2 separate regions of the Homo sapiens genome follow, and region 2 is linked to region 1. Evidence: fine-mapped expression QTL. A gene starts in region 1. The other region holds a variant in brackets. All regions are shown on one strand. Distances are between the middles of the regions. Region 1 holds the start of DDB2 (damage specific DNA binding protein 2). Region 2 overlaps DDB2 (damage specific DNA binding protein 2).

What was found.
Region 2: its variant is fine-mapped to the expression of DDB2 in prefrontal cortex (BrainSeq, PIP 0.95).

The regions. Positions count from the first base shown.
Region 1 is chr11:47,211,647-47,219,971 of GRCh38, forward strand. DDB2 (damage specific DNA binding protein 2) reads left to right here and starts at 3,328. Exons shown (of 10, transcript NM_000107.3): 1 at 3,328-3,617; 2 at 4,690-4,826; 3 at 5,212-5,403. The coding sequence starts at 3,491. RefSeq lists enhancers at 1,932-2,768, 2,769-3,604, 2,811-3,050, 2,892-4,091, 3,381-3,660 and a silencer at 3,121-3,330.
Region 2 is chr11:47,233,943-47,242,267 of GRCh38, forward strand. It overlaps DDB2 (damage specific DNA binding protein 2), which reads left to right. Exons shown (of 10, transcript NM_000107.3): 5 at 631-730; 6 at 815-992; 7 at 1,328-1,470; 8 at 3,895-4,059; 9 at 4,196-4,241; 10 at 4,858-5,275. The coding sequence ends at 4,907. It overlaps ACP2 (acid phosphatase 2, lysosomal), which reads right to left. Exons shown (of 11, transcript NM_001610.4): 11 at 5,360-6,307. The coding sequence ends at 6,174. Among named protein-coding and RNA genes, the nearest start is that of ACP2, 11 kb to the right of the region's middle. The variant T/C (reference allele first, on the strand shown) is at 4,175.

The DNA.
Region 1 (8,325 bases):
CTTGGCTCACCGCAACCTTCGCCTCCTGGGTCCAAGTGATTGTCCTGCCTCAGGCTCCTGAGTAGCTGGGATTACAGGCATGTGCCACCATGCCCTGCTAATTTTGTATTTTCACTAGAGATGGGTTTTCTCCATGTTGGTCAGGCAGGTCTCGAACTCCCGACCTCAGGTGATCCGGCCGCCTCGGCCTCCCAAAGTGCTGGAATTACAGGCGTGAGCCACTGCGCCTGGCCAATTTTTATTTATTTATTTAGAAACAGGGTAAACCTCTGTCATCCGGGCTGGAGTGCAGTGGCACAATTGTAGCTCACTGCAGTCCCAAACTCCTGGGCTTAAGCGATCCTCCTGCCTTGGCCTCCCAAGTAGCTGGGACTACAGGCGTGTGCTACCGCACCTAGCTAAGTTGTGTATTTTCTAATTTTTTAGACAGGGGTCTCAGTATTGCTGAGGCTGATCTCCAACTCCTGGGCTGAAGCGATCCTATCCTCTTGCCCTCTCGAAGTGCTGAGATTACCAGCATGAGCCACCACACTGGACCAAGAGTTGATTTTGGTAACATCTTCTGTCCCTATCTGTCTGAAAAATCCTTGAGAGTAGGATCTACCATTAATGCATTAAACAAATTATTATTTTTTGTTTGTTTATTTTGAGATGGAGTCTTACTCTGTAACCCAGGCTAGAGTGCAGTGGCGCTATCTCAGCTCACTGAAACCTCTGCCTCCCAGGTTCAAGTGATTCTCCTGCCTCAGCCTCCTGAATAGCTGGGATTACAGGTGCGTGCCATGATGCCCAGCTAATTTTTTATATTTATTTATTTTTATTTTTATTTTTTTGAGTTGGAGTCTTGCTCTGTCGCCTAGGCTGGAATGCTGTGGCATGATCTTGGCTCACTGCAGCCTCCCTCTCCTCGGTTCAAGCGATTCTCCTACCTCAGCCTCCTGAGTAGCTGGGACCACAGGCAAGTGCCACCACGCCCCAGCTAATTTTTGTATTTTTAGTAGAGACGGGGTTTCACCATGTTGGTCAGGCTAGTCTCGAACTCCTGACCTCAAGTGATCTGCCTGCTTCATCCTCCCAAAGCGCTGGGATTACAGGCATGAGCCACTGCGCCTGATGGTATTTTTAGTAGAGAAAGGGTTTCACCATGTTGGCCCGGCTGGTCTTGAACTCCTGGCCTCAAGTGATTCACCTGCCTTAGGCTCCCAAAGTGCTGGGATTACAGGCTTGAGCCAATGCGATGGCCTACCATTAATGCATTTTTGTATATCTCCTCCCACCCCCACAAACTGTCAGGCACGGGGCTTAGTGGGTGGAGGAAAGGCCCAGCAATGCCTGAGTAAGCCCAACTCCTGCCTGCCTCTTCGCAGAAACTAGGGTGCATCCAAACTGTCTCTTCTCAGGCTAGGCAGGACAGCGCGGCCTCACCTGTGAACCTTCAAGACTTGGACTTTGGCTGAAGCGAGGGCGTAGGAGTTCTAAGTACCGCTGGCTGCACGCCCTCTGGCCCATCACGTCCCAGGCTGCTCCTAGGTGGACACCCAACAGGTTAGGCAAGTCTTAGTTAAAAGCAGTGAGAGGCCAAGAGGCTGGGCATGGTGGCTCACGCCTATAATCCCAGCATTTTGGGAGGCCGAGGCAGGCAGATCACAAGGTCAGAAGATCGAGACCATCCTGGCCAACATGGTGAAACCCTGTCTCTACTAAAATACAAAAAATTAGTCAGGCGTGGTGGTGTGTGCCTCTAGTCCCAGCTGCTCCGGAGACTGAGGCAGGGGAATCGCTTGAACCCGGGAGGCGGAGATTGCAGTGAGCCGAGATTGTGCCACTGCACTCCGGCCTGGGCAACAGAGTGAGACTCCGTCTCAAAAAAAAAAAAAAAAAAAAAGCAGTGAGGAGGCTGGGCACAGTGGCTCACACCTGTAATCTCAGCACTTTGGCAGACCGAGGTGGATGGATGCCAGGAGTTCTAGACCAGCCTAGGCAACTTAGGGAGACTCTGTCTCTACAAAAAATGCAAAAATTAGCTGAGTGTTGCGGCGCGCACCTGTAGTCCCAGCTACTCGGGAGGCTGAGGTGGGAGGATCGATGTCCAGGAAGTCCAGCCTGCATTGAGCCCACATCCTGCCACTGCACTCCAGCCTGGGTGACAGAGAGAGGCCCTGTCTCAAAAAAAAAAAAAAAAAAAAGAAAGAGAGAAAGAAAGAAAGAAAAAATAAAAACAGCCAACGACCAAACAAATAAAAGAGCAGTGAGAACCAGACACGGTGGCTCATGCCTGTAATCCCAGCACTTTGGGAGGCAGAGGCAGGAGGATCACTTGAGCCCAGGAGGTCCAGACCAACGTGGGAAACATAGCAAGACCTTGTCTCTACAAAAATAAAAATAAAAAAATTAGGCTTGGGGATACAGGTCTGCAAGCCTACTTGGGAGGCTGAGGTGGGAGGATCAGTGAAACTTGAGGTCAAGGCTGCAGTGAGCTGTGATTACATCACTGCACTCCAGCCTGGGTAACGGAAGAGAGACACTGCCTCTAGGAAAAAAAAAAAAAAAAAAAAAAAAAGGCAAGGAGTTCCAATCATTCTCCCTTCACAGAGAAGCAGCTTGGATTCGATGGGACTGTAGTTTCTGGAATCCGACTGCAAAGCTGACCGCTGGTAGAGCCCAGCTTCTAACTTAGGAAAGGCACTAGCTCTCTACAAAGCCGCCACTCCCCAACTACACCCTGTAGGGACCAGCCAATCCCAAAGCCCGAGCGGGCGTCATCACCAATTGCAAGGCGGGAGACAGAGCCTTGGCTGGCACCGGGCCTCCTCCCCGGACCCGCAGAGGCCTGGCAGCGCCGCGTTTGAGGAGGGTTCGTGTCAGGAAGTCAAGGCTGGATGATCGCTTAAGCCCAGGAGTTAAAGACCGGCCCGGACAACAAAGCGAGACCCCGTCTCTCCAGAAAAAGAAAAAAAGAGAGAGAGAGAGAGAAATTAGCCGGGCGTGGTGGCGTACGCTTGTAGTCCCATCTACTTAGGAGGCTGAGGTGGGAGGATCGCTTGAGCCCAGGAGGTGGAGGCTGCACTGAGCTATGATCGCCCCACTGCCCTCCAGAGTGAGCGACAGAGCCAGACCCTGTTGCTAAAAAAAAAAAAAAAATCCATAAAGCCGGGGACCATCTTTGCTCCAGGGAGGTCAGCTGACCCGGGCTGGCACTGGCCCTGGCGCAGTTCCCGCCCCTCCCGGGAGCGCTGGCACCGCCCCTTGGCACCACCCCCTCCCCGCGCCCCCGCCTTCCAGGAAGGGGCGGGGTCTCCGAGACGGGTGGGGCCGGAGCTCCAAGCTGGTTTGAACAAGCCCTGGGCATGTTTGGCGGGAAGTTGGCTTAGCTCGGCTACCTGTGGCCCCGCAGTTTTGTAGTCCCCGCCTTGTTTCTCCCCAGAGGCCTCTCAATCCTCCCTCCATGATCTTCGCATAGAGCACAGTACCCCTTCACACGGAGGACGCGATGGCTCCCAAGAAACGCCCAGAAACCCAGAAGACCTCCGAGATTGTATTACGCCCCAGGAACAAGAGGAGCAGGAGTCCCCTGGAGCTGGAGCCCGAGGCCAAGAAGCTCTGTGCGAAGGGCTCCGGTACTGCCTGTGCCTGCTGCTTGAATATTTCCGCCTTTTAGGGTGCTCGCGCAGGAGGCTGCAGCGGGGGATGGGTGCTCCGAGGCTCCCGAGGCCCGCGCAGGTCACGGGTGCCTCCGGCTGTGCATTCTACCTGCAGGTCCTTTGACACCAGAGTGTTTAGGTTTCAACACCTCTCCCGCTAGGTAACAGGAAGCAGATGAGCTCCGTAACAACAGACACACGGACTTGTCAGATTCCTTGTTCGTATCAGGGTTCTTGCACAGTTAGGACGGCTTCAGAGAATCCTACCTTTCCTGGCGCTGTGTGTGCTGGATTTCATAGTCACGCTTGTTAGCTGCACGTCCTCGGTGGTCAGTTGTGAGAGCCCCCAATTCCTTCCTCCTTAGAAAGCTCATTCTCTGAGGTTTACTGGGGCTTGAACCTGGGGCTATAAGGAGTTTCGAGACACTCAAAAACGAGCTGGGGCTTGTTAATCAAGTGGTTTTTGTCCATGAGAAGAAAGAATTGGTTGTCAAGACGTCGGACCTATAGTGATTGGGTCCTCAAATACAGTTTGGTGATCAGGAGTTGTTGCTTTATTGCTATTCTAATTTCACTTACCTCCCCAGAAGTAACCTAGTTAAGAGCATTTCCAGGCCTTCCTATTCCTTCTTTTCCTAAACGGTGACTTCTGCCATGCTGCCCTAAAATCTTTTTATTGTGCATTATATGTGATTTATAAAATTGTGACCCAGTCCCATCTCGAGTTTTGCAGCCCAAACTGGGAAGAGTTCTGCATTGTACTTTATCCTTGTGTGTTTCTTTGGCTGGGGTCTCAGGAACCCTGCACGACTGTATTTACTTTCACTTCAGACTTACTGTTTGTGGGAGTGTTTTGGGGAAGGGGCCAAATCCTCACTCATTTTTTTATTTCTGGTGCTCGTTGAGACCACACAGACATGGAAAGGCCGCAGGAGGTGATGAGACAGAGATTAACCGTGCCGAATGAAACAAGGCTTCCTTTCGGGGAATTCAGCAGAAAAACCTTTCGTGAGATTGGAGAGGAAAATATGTCTGTTCTGCTTGGCAGGTCCTAGCAGAAGATGTGACTCAGACTGCCTCTGGGTGGGGCTGGCTGGCCCACAGATCCTGCCACCATGCCGCAGCATCGTCAGGACCCTCCACCAGCATAAGCTGGGCAGAGCTTCCTGGCCATCTGTCCAGCAGGTAAGGCATTTTTTGCCTCAAGTCCTCAAGGGTTTACACGTGCATTTTTACTATTGCATGCTCCCAAATTAGATGATGGCTTGGTTCACCAGCTTGTCAGAGTGGTCCGATCACCCAGACTGTGGTGACTGGCCTACTGGGCACTCAGCCAGGTAAAAAATGTCTTATGTTGTAAAGGTCCCAGCTGGAATGCACTCTGCCCCTTTTGCTTTCCAAGATTATTCGTTCGTGTACATTGCAAATATTTTCATGCACAGGGCAGGCAGTTAGCTTTCCTTTGGTGGGAGGACTTGGATCTAGGGCTCATCCATGAAGGAGGCAGAGATTGGCAGTTTACCCAGAACTTGGGTTTTAATTCAACCTAATTCATTTCTCTCTGTGGCAGGGGCTCCAGCAGTCCTTTTTGCACACTCTGGATTCTTACCGGATATTACAAAAGGCTGCCCCCTTTGACAGGAGGGCTACATCCTTGGCGTGGCACCCAACTCACCCCAGCACCGTGGCTGTGGGTTCCAAAGGGGGAGATATCATGCTCTGGAATTTTGGCATCAAGGACAAACCCACCTTCATCAAAGGGGTGAGCAGTTCCCCATGCCAGGTCGTGCTAAAGAAGTGTTTGTTGGCTGGGTGCAGTGGTTCGCACCTGTAATCCCAGCACTTTGGGAGGCCAAGGTGGGTGGATCACCTGAGGTATGGAGTTTGAGACCAGCCTGGCCAACATGGTGAAACCCCGTCTCTACTAAAAATACAAAAATTAGCTGGGTGTGGTGGCAGGCGCCTATAATCCCAGCTACTCAGGAGGCTGAGGCAGGAGAATTGCTTGAACCCGGGAGGCAGAGGTTGCAGTGAGCCAAGATTGCACCATTACACTCCAGCCTGGGCAACAAGAGTGAAACTCCATCTCAAAATAATAATAATAATAATAATAAAAGAAAATAAAAATAAGGAGTGTTTGTTGAAGGCATGAAAGGAATATTGATGTCATCCAGTAATCATCAGGAAGAGGACTGGGATCAAAATTAACTGTGGGCATTTTCAAATACGTAAATGATGATGATATATATTTTTCTAATGCCTGTCCTTAAAATACTAGAAGATATAGACTATTGATCACCCATAGAATTGAAGCCCCTTCTGGGCTGGGCGCAGTGGCTCAGGCCTGTAATCCTAGCACTTTGGGAGGCCAAGGTGGGCTGACCACGAGGTCAAGAGATGGAGACCATCCTGGCCAACATGGTGAAACCCCGTCTCTACTAAAGATACAAAAAATTAGCTGGATGTGGTGGTGTGCGCCTGTAGTCCCAGCTACTTGGGACACTGAGGCAGGAGAATCGCTTGAACCCGGGAGGCGAAGGTTGCAGTGAGCCGAAATCACGCCACTGCACTCCAGCCTGGGCAACAGAGCGAGACTCCATCTCAAAAAAAAAGAATTGAAGCCCCTTCTTACCACATTGACCTCATCTTACGCCATTGTCTTTTCTCACTTCTATGCTGTAGCCACACCAGCTGTTTCTATTCCTGAAACCGGGTCTCTGTAATTGCTGTTCCCTTTGACTGGAGTGCTTTTCCCCCATGGTCTTCTCATGGCTGGCGTCTTCTCTGCAGGTCTTTGCTGATTCTACCTCTTCAAAGAGGCTTTCGCTGGTTGTCCTTACTCATAACGTAGATCCCACTCCTCCACCGTCATTCCCTGTATCATTACCCTGCTTCATGTTTCCCCCAAGTGTTGATGGGTGTCTGAGATCTGATGCTTATTTGTATGTTTGCCCACTGATGGCAGGGACCTTTCCTTTCTGGTTCACCATCCTATTCCCAGTGCCTGGAACAAAGTTTGGCCTAGAGTAGCTGCTTTATATTTGTTGAATGAGTGAGGGGCTTGAAGTGTAATTGAGCAGATGGGATGTATACATACGAGGTAATTAACAATACAGATGCCAAGTGCTACAGAATGTGAAAGAAGGAAGAACCCCTTGTGAATTGGAGTCAATAAAGAAGACTCCATGGATGAGCGAGGAGGAGCAGTATTAGATAAATGGAGAGAAAAGAAGGAAAGACATAGTGTGACTGGGTGAGGTTTGGCACAGAGTTCTTGGGAATGGTCTTTGTTGTGCTAGAGTTTATCATCCATTGCTGAGGGGTGAGTGTGTCGTCCCCTCTAGGACCTTTAGCCAGCCCAGCTGGTGGCTGACATTGGAGGGCTGTGCTGTGAAAAGTGACACTGGGTTTAGAGCAGGAGTCACAAACTTATAGGGCTCCAGAAGCCAGAGTGGAAAAAAAAAAAAAAAGAATGTATGGTGGTAGGGTCAGGGGTAAACTAGAGATGACTGTTGTGCAAAAATGTAGGTCTTTTGATATCAGATGTGATTTTTCTCAAACAAAGACACAAATCCTCATTTTTTAAATGTCATATATCTTGAGTTTTAAAAAAAATTGTAAAATACACGTAACATAAAATGTATCACCTTAACCATTTAAAAGTGTTTTTTTTTTGAGGCGGACTCTCGCTCTGTCACCCAGGCTGGAGTGCAGTGGCGCAATCTTGGCTCACTGCAAGCTCCGCCTCCCGGATTCATGCCATTCTCCTGCCTCAGCCTCCCCAGCAGCTGGGACTGCAGGTGCATGCTGCCACGCCTGGCTAATTTTTGTATTTTTAGTAGAGATGGGGTTTCACCGTGTTAGCCACGATGGTCTCTATCTCCTGACCTTGTGATCTGCCTGCCTCGGCCTCCCAAAGTGCTGGGATTACAGGCGTGAGCCACCGCCCCCAGCCAACTTTTTAAAAAATAATGATAAAATACATATAACATGAAATTTACTTTCGTAACCATTTTAAAGTGCACAGTTCAATGGCGTTGGGTAAATTGTGTAAGCAGTCTCCAGAACTTCATTATTTTTTTTTATTTTTATTTTTTGAGTCTCATTCTGTCACCCAGGCTGGAGTGCAGTGACACAACCATAGCTCACTGCAGCCTCCACCTTCCTGACTCAAGGAATCCTCCGGCTTCAGCCTCCCATGTATCAGGGACTACAGGTACGCACCACCATGCCTGGCTAATTTTTAGAGATGTGGTCTCTCTATATTGCCCAGGCTGGTCTCAAACTACTGGCCTCAAGCAATCCTTCTGTCTTGTCTTCCCAAATTGCTCGGGATTACAGGGCTGAGCCACTGTGCTGGGCCTCTAGAACGTCTTAATATTGGCACTGAATGAAACTAAACACACGTCTCAGCCGAATTCTGCTTCAGTCCACTATTTTTCTAGCTCTGGTTTAAAGGTAGACATGAGGGGGAACCCAGGAGGAGGTCTCTTTATTTATTTATTTGTTTATTTTTTTGAGATGGAGTCTCACTCCGCCGCCCAGGCTGGAGTGCAGTGGCGCAATCTCGGCTCACTGCAAGCTCCGCCTCCCAGGTTCACGCGATTCTCCTGCCTCAGCCTCCGAAGTAGCTGGGACTACTGGTGCCCGCCACCACACCCGGCTACTTTTTTTATATTTTTTA
Region 2 (8,325 bases), 22 kb after region 1:
TTCATAGGGGATGGCAAAAGGCAGTGTAGCATGGATTTGAGAGTTTGAGAGAAAAACTGTGAGCTGAGCTCTTCTGGCTGAATAGCAGGATCCCTGAAGCACCCTCCTAGTCAGCCTCCCAGTCCAGTGGTTTGAGGGACCAGAAGAGCTCCTGGTTGTGTTTTTTCCCCCAGTGTTCAGAAGGGGGCAGAAGTGCTTTTCTAGCCAGCTCTGAGGAACAGGGCCAGGCAATCCCTCTTTGGCTTGTGTCTCCTTTGGCCTAAAGGGTGAAGAGTGAAAGGAGAGAGCAGTAAAGGAGGCTTGCTCAGAACCCGGGGTGTGGGGGGCAGGCGTGCCTCAGGGCTTGCTTTATGGTATAAGCTTTGTCTGCTTCAGGGACTTTTAGGAGCTGGGGATCCTGGGCCCAGCCATAACCAGACAGATTTCTGAGCCCCATTATCCCATCCCCTCTGTCTGGACGGTAGAGCAGTCTGAATGTTCCTCACTAGGAATCCACGGCAAGACAGTTATTCATTCATTCAACAAATATTTATTGAATGCCCGCTGTGGGTTAGTCACCGGAGCGGCAACAGTGAGTAAATAGGACTATCTCTGTCCCCAAGAATCTTACAACACAGTCTCTCCCTCCAGCATCTGGTTTTGTAGCCTGGATGTGTCTGCTAGTAGCCGAATGGTGGTCACAGGAGACAACGTGGGGAACGTGATCCTGCTGAACATGGACGGCAAAGAGGTGCGTTCTCCGAGGTCCTGCCTTTCCCTCCCTCACCCCCACCTCGGTTCTGTGTCCCCACCTGAACCGAGCTCTTCTCTGCAGCTTTGGAATCTCAGAATGCACAAAAAGAAAGTGACGCATGTGGCCCTGAACCCATGCTGTGATTGGTTCCTGGCCACAGCCTCCGTAGATCAAACAGTGAAAATTTGGGACCTGCGCCAGGTTAGAGGGAAAGCCAGCTTCCTCTACTCGCTGCCGCACAGGCATCCTGTCAACGCAGGTGTGATATCCCAGACCTCATCTCTCCTGCAGACCCTGCCTGTCTGACCACTGCTGGGGTTTTCCCTCAGTGTGGAAGCCACTACGTCAAACCTTTACCCCTGATAGCGTCTGCCAAGCTGATGTCTGGGAACCTTTGTGGCTGTGGCTGTCCCCATCAGCTGCTGAGTTTCCAGAATTTTTTTGTTGTTGTTCACAGCCCAGATTCACCTCTTCCTTTCCGCTCCTGTCTAGAGAGGAGTGGGAGGGAGAGTACCCCTGCAGGAGAAGGCCTGCAAGGCCAGGACCACAGAGGGCTTGTGGTTCCTTCAGCTCAGGGGCTTTTCACTTTGCCAGCTTGTTTCAGTCCCGATGGAGCCCGGCTCCTGACCACGGACCAGAAGAGCGAGATCCGAGTTTACTCTGCTTCCCAGTGGGACTGCCCCCTGGGCCTGATCCCGCACCCTCACCGTCACTTCCAGCACCTCACACCCATCAAGGTGAGTGGCGGTGGGAAGGAGCTCGCAGAAGGAGGCTGTGATCATGAGGCCGGAGCAGGTCTGCCCACAGTGGGGAAGGGCTGATGTGGTAAGCCTGCCACCCCAGATCGCTCCTGGCCCGAGCACAGAGCATCTCTTACCCATTGGCTCTCTCTCTTCCTTTTATCCCACTTCTGCCATCCCATATGGTTGAGTTTTCTGTCTCGCTGATAAGATATTTTTCTGAGTTTTTTCAGCCCAGCTCTGATCTCACTGTGAGAATTTTCTAAGATCCTGACCCTCTGTTCTGTCTTCTCAGCTTCAGTTACCTGTGTACAGTTGACCCACAAACCTTCATTTTTTATTTTTTTATTATTTTTTTTAAGGCAGGGTCTCGCTCTGTCACCCAGGTGGGAGTACAGTGGGGCAAGCATGGTTCATTACAGCCTTGATCTCCCAGGCTCAAGCGATCCTCCTGCCTCACTTTTTTTTTTTTTGTAGAGACAGGGTATTCTTGTGTTACCCAGGCTGATCCTTTTTTTTTTTTTTTTTTTTTTTCTTGAAACGGTCTTGCTCTGTCACCCAGGCTGGAGTGCAGTGGCACAAACATAGCTCACTGCAGCCTCAACCTCCTGGGTTCAAGCAATCCTTCCGCCTTAGCCTCGGAAGTAGATTGGACTACAGGTATGCGCCACCATACCCAGCTAATTTTTTTATTTTTTATAGAGATGGGGTTTTGCCATGTTGCCCAAGCTGGTCTTGAACTCCTAGGTTGAAGCCATCCCCCAACCTTGGCCTCCCAAAGTGCTAGGATTACAGGCATGAGCCACTGCGCCTGGCAACTTTGCCTTCTTAGTTTGTCTTGCAGGTTTCAGTGCTTCTAATAATAAAAATAAGTCTTTTATTTTCCCACCTTTTCTCAGGCTCTTGTTAATAGCTTCTCTATCATTAGTCCCCAACACTAATAGCTTTCAAGTCCTTTGATGCCTTTTTGCCTAAGCCCCCATGCAGACTGAGCTCTGCTAGTTCTGCATTCTTTTCCAAAACTACAGATCCTCTTCAGATCTTCAGGTTTTATGCCTATACTTCTCTGGTCAGTTCAGAATAGTGGTGGGGAGCGCCAGTTTCCAGCAGCCAGACCCCCCGGGTTAGAATCCTTGGGCAAATTACTTATATTTTGGATCTGTTTCCTCATCTGCAAAAAGGGAATACTAGTCTCTAACTGATAGGGTTGTTGTGAAGATGAGTCAGTATACTTAAAGCACTTGGCCCCATGCCCAGCACCTGGTAAGTACTGGTAAGTATTCAATAAATGATGATTGAATATTGAGTGGCCCCCACGTACCTCAATCACATCCAAGCTCTTAATAAATAATGTCAAGAATCCTTCCCCAGTTGGTGTTCCTGTTAATCCATCAGTGTTCCCGATAATCCATCTGTCTGCATGTCCCAGTTTGTATCTAGCCAGGTGTCGTAAGTCATTACAGCTTCCTGTGTGTGATTTGTGACTTATTTCTAAGCCTTCGCATGTACTATTTCTTCCTTCCTGCTAACCATGTCTTTCTTCCTTCAAAACTTCCTTGAGAAGTTTAGGAAAATCCCATCCAATTCTGCCATTTTAATAACTGCCAGATTTGTTTTTAGTGGGGTGATCTGGGGAATGTGGGTTTCCTTCTCTTTTTTAGCCATTAGCAATTTTACACTCAGCTCTTAGTTATTCGTGTTGATGGAGACAGGATGACAGTGGGGCTCCTCCAGAACTCAAGTCCTGTTAGGGTTTGGTCACCAGAGGCTTTTTCTGCTTTGTTGTAGGCCTCTTAGGTCAGTATCTGGGTCAGGCTGATGTTAAAACGTTTACCAGTTGGTATGATCTTAGGAAATGCAAATGAGGGAGAAGGCCTGAAGGTGCCCTAAGGGCCAGGGAGGCCAGCTAGGGATTAAAAATGTGCAATGGCAGAGGCACACACAACCTAAAACCATTCTTGTAGTTTTCTGTAAGACTTATCTCCATTATTAGGTTGGCTTGTTACTGGCAAATACTACTTTTTTTTTTTTTTTTTTGAGAGTCTTGCTCTGTCACCTAGGCTGGAGTGCAGTGACATGATCTTCACTCACTGCAACCTCCGCCTCCCGGGTTCAAGTGATTCCCCTGCCTCAGCCTCCCAAGTAGCTGGGACTACAGGCATGTACCACCACGCCCAGCTAATTTTTTTTTTGGTATTTTTAGTAGGGACGGGGTTTCACCATGTTAGCCAGGATGGTCTCGATCTCCTGACCTCGTGATCCGCCTGCCTCAGCCTCCCAAAGTGTTGAGATTACAGGTGTGAGCCACTGCACTCAGCCCAAAGAATACTTTTGATGTTCCTCTTTGTTCATATTTGTTTTTGATGTCCCCCTTGATCATGTTCTGTGTTTACCCTCATGGCCGGCCTCTCCATCTCCTAGGCAGCCTGGCATCCTCGCTACAACCTCATTGTTGTGGGCCGATACCCAGATCCTAATTTCAAAAGTTGTACCCCTTATGAATTGAGGACGATCGACGTGTTCGATGGAAACTCAGGGAAGATGATGTGTCAGCTCTATGACCCAGAATCTTCTGGCATCAGTTCGGTGAGGCTTGGGTCCTCAAATAATGATGGGAGGAAGCAGGGATTCAACCTACCTTATTGACCAAAAGTGACCAGAAATCAGGTGTCTCTGCTAATACCTTCACCCTCTCCTCATG[T/C]TGACACTCTTGTCTCTGCAGCTTAATGAATTCAATCCCATGGGGGACACGCTGGCCTCTGCAATGGGTGAGTAGGAGGAGAATGTCTCTGACTTGCCAAGTCCGATCCTACTTCCCAAGGTTCAGTGCGGGCCAGCCTCAGCCCCGCCCTGCCACATTCACCCCAGGGCAGTGGCCCACGAAGAAGATGGCTGGGAGACAGTGGTCTCTATAGCCAAGGCCCTCCATTCCTCTGGCTTTGTCTTGGTCATGCAATGCCTGGCTACTGTCCAGTTTCCTAGTATTTCTTTTTTTTTTTTGAGACGGAGTCTCGCTCTGTCCCCCCGGGCTGGAGTGCAGTGGCGTGATCTTGGCTCAATGCAAGCTCCGCCTCCTGGGTTCACGCCATTCTCCTGCCTCAACCTCTCGAGTAGCTAGGACTACAGGTGCCCGCTACCACGCCCAGCTAATTTTTTGTATTTTTAGTAGAGACAGGGTTTCACCGTGTTAGCCAGGATGGTCTCGGTCTCCTGACCTCGTGATCCGCCCACCTCAGCCTCCCAAAGTGCTGGGATTACAGACTTGAGCCACCGCGCCCGGCCTTCCTAGTATTTCTTTACCAAATTGTAGGTTTGCGGGCCAGCCCCAGGCTCTGAGAGATTGGTAACAGAAAGTGTAAGTCAGACTGGTCTCACTCTTCCTAGGTTACCACATTCTCATCTGGAGCCAGGAGGAAGCCAGGACACGGAAGTGAGAGACACTAAAGAAGGTGTGGGCCAGACAAGGCCTTGGAGCCCACACATGGGATCAAGTCCTGCAAGCAGAGGTGGCGATTTGTTAAAGGGCCAAAAGTATCCAAGGTTAGGGTTGGAGCAGGGGTGCTGGGACCTGGGGCACTGTGGGACTGGGACACTTTTATGTTAATGCTCTGGACTTGCCTCCAGAGACTGCTCCAGAGTTGGTGACACAGCTGTCCCAAGGGCCCCTCTGTATCTAGCCTGGAACCAAGGTTATCTTGGAACTAAATGACTTTTCTCCTCTCAGTGGGTGGTAGCAGAGGGATCAAGCAGTTATTTGATTTGTGCTCACTTTTGATATGGCCAATAAAACCATACCGACTGAGCTTCTGCGTGGATCTTCCAGAAGTGACCTGGTCAGAGAGCTTCTTGCGTCTCAGAAATGAAGAAAAAGCACAGGAAACAGCACTATCAGTCCAATAGGAAACAGCACTATTCATTCTCTGGGAGCTGCCCCAGCCCTATTCTGGGCCACAGTCTAGAACTTTCTTTTCCAGCTCACAACCTGCATGTAGCTCAGGTCCCTGGAGACCCCAGCCCAGCTGAGGGAGAGCAGTTTCCTGATTCGTGTGACAAGCAACTCCCTTCCCACCACTCCCTACTCCCTCCCAAGTACAGACAACCTTCCGTCCTGCTCCAGTTGAAGGGGTGACAACGATTCCTGAAGCATTCTGTCTGAGTCTAATGGTGGCTCTAGCCAGACACAGGGAAATGTGGCTGGCTGGCTGTTGGGTGATCCAGTTCCTTGGGAGCCAATGTTTGTACCCCTGGTATTAGCTGTTTTTCCCACTAAAATAAGCACTGAGAGGCAAGACCGTGTCCCTCTGAGCTATTTGCCGAAGACTTCAGGCTGGAGGAAAAAGAACAGGGCTTGATAGAAGTGCAAGGTGGATCCAGCACCAACTCTGCCATTTTCTAATCCTAGGTCCTGAGTGAACACTGACTGCCAGTTTACATCTCAGGTGTGTAGGGAGCGTGGAGGAGGCAAATCCTGTTTGGAGAAAGCCAGTGTCCAACACAGCACTTGGTAAACATCAGGCATGGGAATGCTGAGTGACAGGCACCATGGGCCACGCTGAGCCCCACTCGCTCATCTGGCTGGGGTCATCAGAGGGAGGCCCAACCCAGGATCTCCTGTCCATGGGCTGGGGAGCAGCAACAGTCAGGAGCGAGGGCCCAGCCCACCTCCCCTAGGAGGTGGAGGGAAGGGGGCTGAGTGGTTGTCAGGCGTGGTCCTCCCCATCTGCGACGTGGCGGTAGCCAGGAGGCTGGGCCTGCATCCGGAAGAGGACGGTGAGGAGCAGCACTATGAGGAGGAAGAGGATGGAGCCACATACAGCCAAGGCCACAATCACCTCTGGGCATGGGGGAGGCAAGAGAAAGGTCATGTCAGCGTTCCATCATATGCCAGCTACTGTTCTGACATATAGGAGATACACAGAGGTGGCCAAGACAGAGTCCCTGCTCTCATGGAGTTTACATTCTAGGAGAGGGGATGTAATAAATAAGCAAATGGGCTGGTCACAGTGGCTCACGCCTATAATCCCAACACTTTGGAAGGTTGAGGTGGGCAGATCACCTGAGGTCAGGAGTTGGAGACCAGCCTGGCCATCATGGTGAAAACCCATCTCTACTAAATAAAGTTGGCCGTGCGCAGTGGCTCACACCTGTAATCCCAGCACTTTGGGAGGCCGAGGTGGGTGGATCACCTGAGGTCAAGAGTTTGAGACCAGCCTGGCCAACGTGGTGAAATGCCGTCTCTACTAAAAATACAAAAAATTAGCTGGGCATGGTGGTGTGCACCTGTAATCCCAACTACTCGGGAGGCTGAGGCAGGAGAATTGCTTGAACCTGGGAGACAGAGGTTGCAGTGAGCCGAGATCACGCCACTGCACTCCAGCCTGGGTGACAGGATGAGACACCGTCTCAAAAAAAAAAAAAAAATTAGGAGTGACAGGTCAGTGACGAATGTGATACAGAGAGACAAAGCAAAGTAGGTCAGCAGGGAAGGCATCATTGAGAAAGTGAGAAGTTTAACAGAGACCTGGAGTCAATGAATGACATACAACAATCTGAGAAGAGTATCACAGGGCAGAGGAGACGAAGGGCAAAAGGCCCAGATGTGGGGATAAGCCTGGCACATGCTAGTATCATCAAGAGTCAGTCTCACCAGAGTAGAGTAAGCAAGGGGCATGTAGGAGATGGGGCAGGAGACCAGATGGAGTAGGGCCTAGAAGGCCATGGTGAAGAACTTGGATTTTATTCTATATGTGATGGGAAGCCACTAGAAAATTCTGAGAGGACAGTAGTATGAACTGGTTTACATTTTTTAAAAGTTAACTCAGTCGGCCGCGGTGGCTCATGCCTGTAATCCCAGCAATTTGGGAGACTAAGGCGGGCGGATCACCTGAGGTTGGGAGTTTGAGACCAGCCTGACCAACATGGAGAAACCTCATCTCTACTGAAAATACAAAATCAGCTGGGCATGGTGATGCATGCCTGTAATCCCAGCTACTCGGGAGGCTGAGGCAGGAGAATCACTTACACCCGGGAGGCGGAGGTTGCAGTGAGCCGAGATTGCGCCACTGCACTCCAGCCTGGGCAACAAGAGCAAAACTCCATCTCAAAAAAATAAAAAAAGTTAACTCTGCTGTGTTGAAAGACTGGTAGGGACAAGAATAGAACCAGAAAGAACTAGGAAGCTTTTCATTCGGTCAGGCAAGAGCTGACGGTAGATTGGACTGCGGAGGCAAGAGCACATATTAATATTTGAAAGGTTGAGCTGATCTGGCAGTGGGCTGGATGAGGGGTATGAGAAACGGTATGCAGAATGACCCCAAGGGTTATACTGTGCCACTAGGTGACTCGTGGCATTGACTGAAACAAGGAAGCCTGGAAGAAGAGCAGCTGTGGAAGGAAAAGCATCTGGTTTTAGACATTGCAACTTTGAGATGCCTTACTTAACATGCATGTAGAGATCTCAAGTTGGCAGCTGGATATGAGTCTCTAGCTCAGAGAAGAGGTTGTGAATCTGTGAGTCAGGGCGTAAGGACAGAAGTGGGCATGGAGATGGGCATAAAGTCATGAGGCTGCATGAGATCACTTGGGAGTGTGCACAGATGGGGAAAGCTCCAGGGATGAGTCCTGGGTCATCCGTTCTTTAGTGAGGAAGGGACGCCTGAAAGTCAGAAGCCAAGAAAGTGTTTCAGGAAGGGGTGACCAATTATGTAATGCTGCTGAGAGGTGAGAGAAGCTAAGAATTAGTCACTGGCTTTGGTAGGAGGTGACTGGTCACCAGACAAGTATGGCTTCAGGGTAGTGGAAGGTGACACAAGACTGTCTAATGTGAGTCTAAGAGAACAAGTGGTGAGGAAG